Linked DNA regions of Homo sapiens. The protein of the gene in region 2 purifies or fractionates together with the protein of the main gene of each other region. This does not show direct contact. Each region holds a gene or a part of one and is shown on either strand. Other genes may lie near its edges.

Region 1 (3,824 bases), on a different chromosome or scaffold from region 2:
AACTGTAATCTTTATGGTTATATTAGGTAGGCACCCTCTTGCGAGCACAGGTTCCATCTCTGTTAAGTTCCACATTTACCCCATCCTTTTCCTCATGTCAACAATTTCATCCTGTCAGAATTAATCTCTTATAAGCCCATGCTGAACAGACCTAATTGAAGCCATGCTGGCGAATTGGCCACTCAGGTCTGTGTTTTATGAGTTTCTGAACCCCAGAGTAGTACTTGTTCCTCTTTGGTCTTGGCACAGCAAATGCTACAACAAAGTGAGTGTTATGAATTTCTCCTTCCCTGAAGAATAGTTCTCATGATACCAAATTCAGTAATTATTCATTTGCTTCCAGGGGAGTTTGAAATGTGATGTATCTCCCTAGGGGTAGTATTCAGGGTACTTCTGCTTCAGTCTTTGGCAGAAGAAATAATACTTCAATATTTACAGAAGTCGTTGACGCCTCCATCAGCTGTATTTGTTAGAAGCATCTGTGTGAAAATTTGAGTTTGCTTCTGTCCGAACTTCTGCATATTAATCTCTGTGATGGATCTGAGGTGCATTTAAAAGAATACCTCCTGTACTTCTTTTAAGTAAGGACAGCTGTGGGAAGCAGATTGGGTTGGCAGCCTGCACCTATGCGGGGTTCCACCTCTGCCACTTAACAGCTGCGTGGGCTTCAGCAGGTAAGTCACTCTACCTCCTTGAGACCCTAGAATCTATGTAGAACTTGGAAGGTGATAATCCTGTGCCTACTTTGGAGGGTATTAAAACTATCAGTATTGTACATGAAAGTTAGGTGGGGCACTGACTTAATTTAATTAGCATAGTAAAAACGTCTCTCTGTTATATAGGATGTTTATTGAAGCATTGTTTCTAATAGCAAAAGATTGGAAGAGTTAGTAGACTAAATGTCCTTGAAAAGAATAAATCATGCTACAGCTGGGCAACGGAATATTCTGCAAATTTTAAAGAGAACAAAGCTGTTCTATGGGTACTGAATATAGCTGCTTGGTACCACATAATAGGCACTTTTCTGAAGTGTTCAACATGTATTAATTCATTGTGGCTTCACAAAAGCCCACGAGGTAGGGACCCCAATTTTACAGATGAGGAAACTAAGATAAAGGTTAAGTCACTTGTCCAAATATCCACAGCTAGTAGGTGGCAGAGGCAGGATTCAAACCCAGGCAGATTGGCTTAAAGACTCTAATCTTGGCCACCCTGCTGTGCTGTACACCTGTCAGACCTAAGTAGTGATCTTTGTATTTGCAGCTTTAGATACATGAGAGGAAACAAGGTTGAGTTTCTTATTCATCGTTACATTCTGGGAGGCTGACGGTATAATCAACATATAGCTTCTGTTGACAGTAACTAAATAAAGGTTTAGATAAAGAAAGCTAATAGGGAATAACATTTATGATCAATACTTGAAAGGGTGACCGTTTGTTTCTTCCATTACTCCTTATTTTAGATATTTTGAACTTAAACCTCTTTTTTGGGGAAAATCAGAAGCGTACACACTGAATAGCTTACAATTGTTAGTGTAAGAAATCAGTGTTCAAAAGCCCAGTTGAGTCAGTGTTCACTAGCCTGACTGGTCTAGTGTGGCTGGATTAGTATGACTGGCCAAGGGCATCCAGCATTGGTTTCCTTACCCGGTCCTAGCCCCATCTGGTTTGATTTACAAGGTATATACGCTCAGAGAAATGCAGACGGGAGGGAAAGACACTCACATTCTTTAGGGAGCCTCTATCTCCAGATTGCCTGATCTCCCTTGGGTGAAAATGTAAGTCAGGTGTACAAGTCGTACAAGTCATGTATAGCTTGACAATGGGAATACTTTTTGAGAAATGTACTCTTAGGCAATTTTGTTGTTGTGTGTTCATCATAGAGTGTACTTAGACAAACCTAGATGGTTACCACATACATAGGGCATATGATATACCACATTGCTCCTAGGCTACAAACCTGTACAGCAAGTTACTGTACTGAATACTGTAGCTAGCTGTAACACAGTGGCAAGTATCTGTATATCTAAATGAAGAAAAGATATAGTAAAAATATAAAAGATAAAAAATGATACAACTATGTAGGGCACTTGCCATGAATGGAGCTTGCAGGACTGGAAGTTGCTCTGGGTAAGTCAGTGAGTGGGGAGTGAATGTGAAGGCCTAGGACTTTACTGTACACTCTAGACTTTATAAACACTGTATACTTAGGCTACATTAGGTTTATAAAAAATATTTTTTGATTAGGTGTGGTGGCTCATGTCTGTAATCTCAGCACTTTGTGAGGTTGAGGTGGGACCAGGCATTTAAGACCAGCCTGGGCAATATCACAAGACTCCATCTCTACTTATTTATAATAAAAGTTTTTTTAAAAATATGTATTATTTTAATATATATTTTTCTTCCTTAATACATAAACTGTAGCTTATTGTAACATTTCTATTTTATAAATTTTTTAAACTTTTTTACTCTTTTGTAATAATACTTAGCTTAAAACACAGGCTGTATGGCTGCAAAAAAAATATTTTATTTCTTCGTATCCTTATTCTTCAAGCTTTTTTTCTCCTTTTAAAGTTTTTTAAACTTTTTTGTTAAAAACTAAAACAAACATACACATTAGCCTAGGTCTGTACAGGGGCAGGATCATCAATGTCACCGTCTTCCATCTCCACATCTTGTCCCACTGAAAGGTCTGTAGGAGCAGTAACACACATGAGCTGTCATTTCCTATGACAACAATGCCTTCTTCTGGAATACCTCCTGAAGGACCTATCTGAAGCTGTTTCATAGTTAACTTTTTAAAATATGTAATTAGAAGGTGTACACTCAATTAATGATAAAAAAGTATAGTATACCAAATACATAAACCAATGACATAGTTCTTTATCATCAGCATCAAGCATTATGTACTGTCCATAATTTTATGTGTGATACTGTTACAGGTCTAGCTATGCAGTAGGTTTATTTACACCAACATCACCACAAATGTTTTATTGTGCTATGATGTCACTAGGCAATAGGAGTTTTTCAGCTCCATTATAATGTTACAGGAGTATCATTGTATATGTGGTCCATTGTTGATTTAAAGGTCATTATGCGATGCGTGACTATATTTTGAAAACATTCTGATAGAGAATGACATTAAGTCATTTTGATACAAGGCCCCATTAAGGGCCACTGTGCTGGGCCATGGTGTTCAGGCTATAGACAAGTCTGCCACCACCTTCAGTTCTCTTAGGATCCTTAGACTCTTTCAGAACTGAGTTTTCTTTCTGGGTGTGGGACACTAGGTTTGGCAACATTGTAATGGCTATAAGTATCAGCATTCCTAAAATAAGAGAATCACAAAATTCATGGGGTGGCTTATATATTCACATGGAATCTGAACAGGTGATAAAACAACTGTTGGTTTCAGAGACATGCTATAGAGGAGATGAATACACAGTTGCTAGACTGTGTGTCCCTTTGAAAAATGCTGTATTGTAGCAGGATTTTCCCCCATTTTTTACACATTTAACTTTGCTTCTCCCTCTCCTCACTCACCCTCACACCCAAACAACAGTTATAAAATGTGGGCGTGTAGATTGAGTTTTAAAAAAGAAATGTGTTTTTGTGTTATATGCCTTATTTATGTTACACAGGCTTGAATTAAAATCTTTTAAGACATTTTCGTTTGGGGGGTTGCATAACTAATCTTTATTATGTTTCTCCACCGTCTTTTAATTTCAGCTTAAGGTATCACTGCCTTTGTATACTTTGCACAAATTAGGTTGGAGAACTCAATTGATAATTTCCTCAAATGATAATTTATTTTGAATATTCAAG
Region 2 (3,824 bases):
TCATTTTTAGTACAATATTAGACATCACATCCTATGTAAAAACAAACCAGTTATTTCTTCTAACTCAGTAATTCTATGCCCTGGGAGAGAGCTATGACGTCTAGGTATATTAGAATTACCTCACTAAAATTTTCTGACAAGACCCTCCCATTTCCTCATGAGCCTAAAATCTCAGGAGACCCTTCCCCTGAGAATCATTGCCAGAATAAGTGTTGGCTACTAATGAGAATGGAGAATTTGAGTCTAAGCAGGATGAGGAGGAGATCCATAAAGGGTAGCCTGGTGTGAGGATCCAGAGCCAGATGAGGCGAACGTCTATACACCTGGACACCCGAGAACAAGGTTTTAGAGCCTAAGCAAGAGAGAGATTCTCAAGGAAGGCAGCCTGGCATGGAGTGTCAGAGTATACTCTGACAAAGGGCAGCCTGTTGTGGGGTACCATAGCCCAAGCAGGTTAAGAAGGCAGGTATACATATGAAAAGGAAGAAAATAATGAATCCTGTGGGATGAACTGGAAATACGAGATATCAATATAAACTTGTGATTTTCAGTATGTATAGATATACAGAAATATAGATTGTATACCATTCTTGATTTTTCTTTTAAAAAATTTTTTTGTAGAGAGGCATTCTCTCTAAGTTGTCAAGGGTGTTGAACTCCTGGGCTCAAGCCATTCTCCTGCCTTGGCCTCCCAAAGTGCTGGGATTACAGGTGTGAGCTACCACTTCTGGCCCTAAATACCATTCTCAACTAAAAGGAACTGGGGCTCTTTGGAGAAATGGCTACAACAGGAAAAGCTGCCCTGCCCACAGCTAGGGCATGAAAAGTACAAGATGAGCCTGAAACGTCTTCTTCCAAAATGCAAGAAAGTGGTCAAAGAGTAACAGGGACATGTCAAAATCCTATCTTATTTTCTCTATGAAAATATAAGACCTGGGCTGGGCCGGATGGCTCACGCCTGTGATCCTAGCACTTTGGGAGGCCAAGACGGGTGGACTGCCTGAGCTCAAGAGTTCGAGACCAGCCTGGGCAACATGGTGAAACCCCATCTCCACTAAAATACAAAAAACTTAGCCAGAAGTGGCGGCATGCGCCTGTAATCCCAGCTACTTGGGAGGCTGAGGATGGACAATCGCTTGAACCGGACAGATGGAAGTTGACGTGAGCCGAGACCGCGCCATTGCACTCTAGCCTGGGCAACAAGAGCGAAATTCCGTTTCAAAAAAAAAAAAAAAAGAAAATATAAGACCTAAGTCCGGGCGTGGTGGCTCATGCCTGTAATCTCAGCACTTTGGGAGGCTGAGGTAGGCGGATCACCTGAGGTAGGGAGTTCAAGACCTGCCTGACCAATATGGTGAAACCTCGTCTTTACTAAAAATACAAAAATTATCCCGGCTGTGGTGGCGCATGCCTATAATCCCAGCTACTCAGGAGGCTGAGGTGGGAGCATCACTTGAACCTGGGAGGCGGAGGTTGCAGTGAGCCAAGACTGTGCCACCACACTCCAGCCTGGGTGACCCTATCTCAAAAAAAAAAAGAAAGAAAATATAACACCTTTCAGAACACAACTATGATTTTCCCATACTGCCTGTCCCTCCCTGCACCTTGATCTGAATACCTTAGCAAATGCTCACCAAATTAATAAAATCATCATCCTAGTATTTTTAGAATTTAAAATACCATAAAAACTTCTCAATAGCTTCCTAAAAAAGGCTAACCTCTAGGATTTGAAATGGATAATTCCAATTCACTCATATCACCACTCACTCTTCCTCTATTTCACCGTGCTTTGTAAGAAAAAATAAACTCTTCCAGTTTTTCCCTATTACCAACATCTACATTAGCATGGAGCATCTGTCACAACTAATGACCCAATATTGACACATTACTATTTTTTTTTTTTGAGACAGAGTCTTGCTCTGTTGCCCAGGCTAGAGTGCAATGGCACAATCTCGGCTCACTACAAACTCTGCCTCCCGGGCTCAAGCGATTCTTCTCCCTCAGTCTCCCGAGTAGCTAGGATTACAGGTGCCTGCCACCACACCCGGCTAATTGGTGTATTTTTAGTAGAGACGGGGGTTTCACCATGTTGGCCAGGATGGTTTCGAACTCTCGACCTTAGGTAATCTACTGCCTCAGCCTCCCGAAGTGCTGGGATTACAGGTGTGAGCCACTGTGCCCGGCCGACACATTACTATTAACTGAAGTCCATACTTAATTCAGATTTCCTTAGTTTGCTAATGTCCTTTTTCTGTTCCACAGTACCACATTACATTTATTTTTATTTATTTATTTATTTATTTTGAGACAGAGTCTCGCTGTCACCCTGGCTGGAGTACAGTGGTGTGATCTGGGCTCACTGCCAAGTTCCGCCTCCCGGGTTCAGCCATTCTTGTGCCTCAGCCTCCCAAGGAGCCGGGACTACAGGCGCCCGTCACCATGCCCGGCTAATTTTTTTTGTTGTTGTTTTTTTTTGTATTTTTAGTATTTTTAGTAGAGATGGGGTTTCACCGTGTTAGCCAGGGTAGTCTCGCTCTCCTCACCTTGTGATCCACCTGCCTCGGCCTCCGAAAGTGCTGGGATTACAGTCGTGAGCCACCGCGCCCGGCCTACATTTAGTTTTTAATTTTATTTATTTATTTATTTTTTGAGACAGCGTCTCACTCTATCACCCAAGCTGGAGTCCAATGGCACAATCTTGGCTCACTGCAACCTCCACCTCCTGGGTTCAAGCGATTCTCCTGCCTCAGCCTCCTGAGTAGCTGGGATTACAGGCACGTGCCACCATGCCCAGCTAATTTTTGTATTTTTAGTAGACATGGGGTTTCACCACGTTGGCCAGGCTGGTCTCAAACTCCTGACCTCGTGATCCACCCGCCTTAGCCTCCCAAAGTGTTGGGATTACAGGCGTGAGCCACTGTGCCCAGCCCTTTTATTTTATTTTTTAGAGACAGAGTCTTGCTCTGTCACCCCGCCTGGAGTACAGTGGTGCAATCTCGGCTCACTGCAAACTCCACCTCCTGGGTTCAAGCGATTCTCCTGCGTCAGCCTCCTGAGTAGCTGGGACTACAGGCATGCACCACCGGGCCCAGCTAATAATTTAGTTGCTATGTCTTCACAGGCTTCTTTTGGCAGTGACAGTTATCTGATGGTATTTTAACTCACTGAAAATGCGTAAGGTGATAGAAGCAGCCTCTCAAAAAACAAGCAAAAACCTATATGGCTTCTGCATATACTAGAGGTTCTGGGTTTGGTGTGAACTTTTTAATACCACTCATCATTCTTGAATAACACAATAACCACCAACACAAAAACAAAGAGAAATTAGTTACTAATTACTTTCCAGGGTAGATAATTCTTACACAGGGAACAAAGGAAAAAGATACAACATTACCTCAACCCTCAGGAACTAAATTTCCTCATCTGGAAAATGGGAGATAATAATAGTACTAACTTCTTCATTACTGTGAGAGTTAAGAAAAGCAAAGAGAAGATTATTTTGATACCCAAAACATCTAAGGAACGACTGAAGTATTAAGATTTTTTCATGTCTTATATACGGTCTCTCCAATCTAACTATACCCTTGTGTTGTTTGTTTTTGTTGCTGTTTGAGACAGGGTCTCTGTCACCCAGGCTGGAGTGCAGTGGTGCAATCTCACTGCAGCCTCAACCTCATGGGTTCAAGTGATCCGTCCATGTCAGCCTCCCTAGTAGCTGGGACCACAGGCACATGCCCCAACACCTGGCTAATTTTTCCATTTTTCTGGGGAAATGGGCAGCCATGCTGCCCAGGCTGGTCTCGAACTCCTGAGCTCAAGCTATC

Evidence for each region.
Region 1: the proteins of TIMM17A (region 2) and ELOVL5 purify together in Homo sapiens (affinity purification with mass spectrometry, with the first as the bait; one large-scale study listed by BioGRID). This does not show direct contact.

Annotation. Positions count from the first base shown.
Region 1 is NC_000006.12:53,338,804-53,342,627, reverse strand, and holds part of ELOVL5 (very long chain fatty acid elongase 5), read left to right. Parts: intron 1-3,824. UniProt on the Homo sapiens protein: Catalyzes the first and rate-limiting reaction of the four reactions that constitute the long-chain fatty acids elongation cycle.
Region 2 is NC_000001.11:201,958,479-201,962,302, reverse strand, and holds part of TIMM17A (mitochondrial import inner membrane translocase subunit Tim17-A), read right to left. Parts: intron 1-3,824. UniProt on the Homo sapiens protein: Essential component of the TIM23 complex, a complex that mediates the translocation of transit peptide-containing proteins across the mitochondrial inner membrane.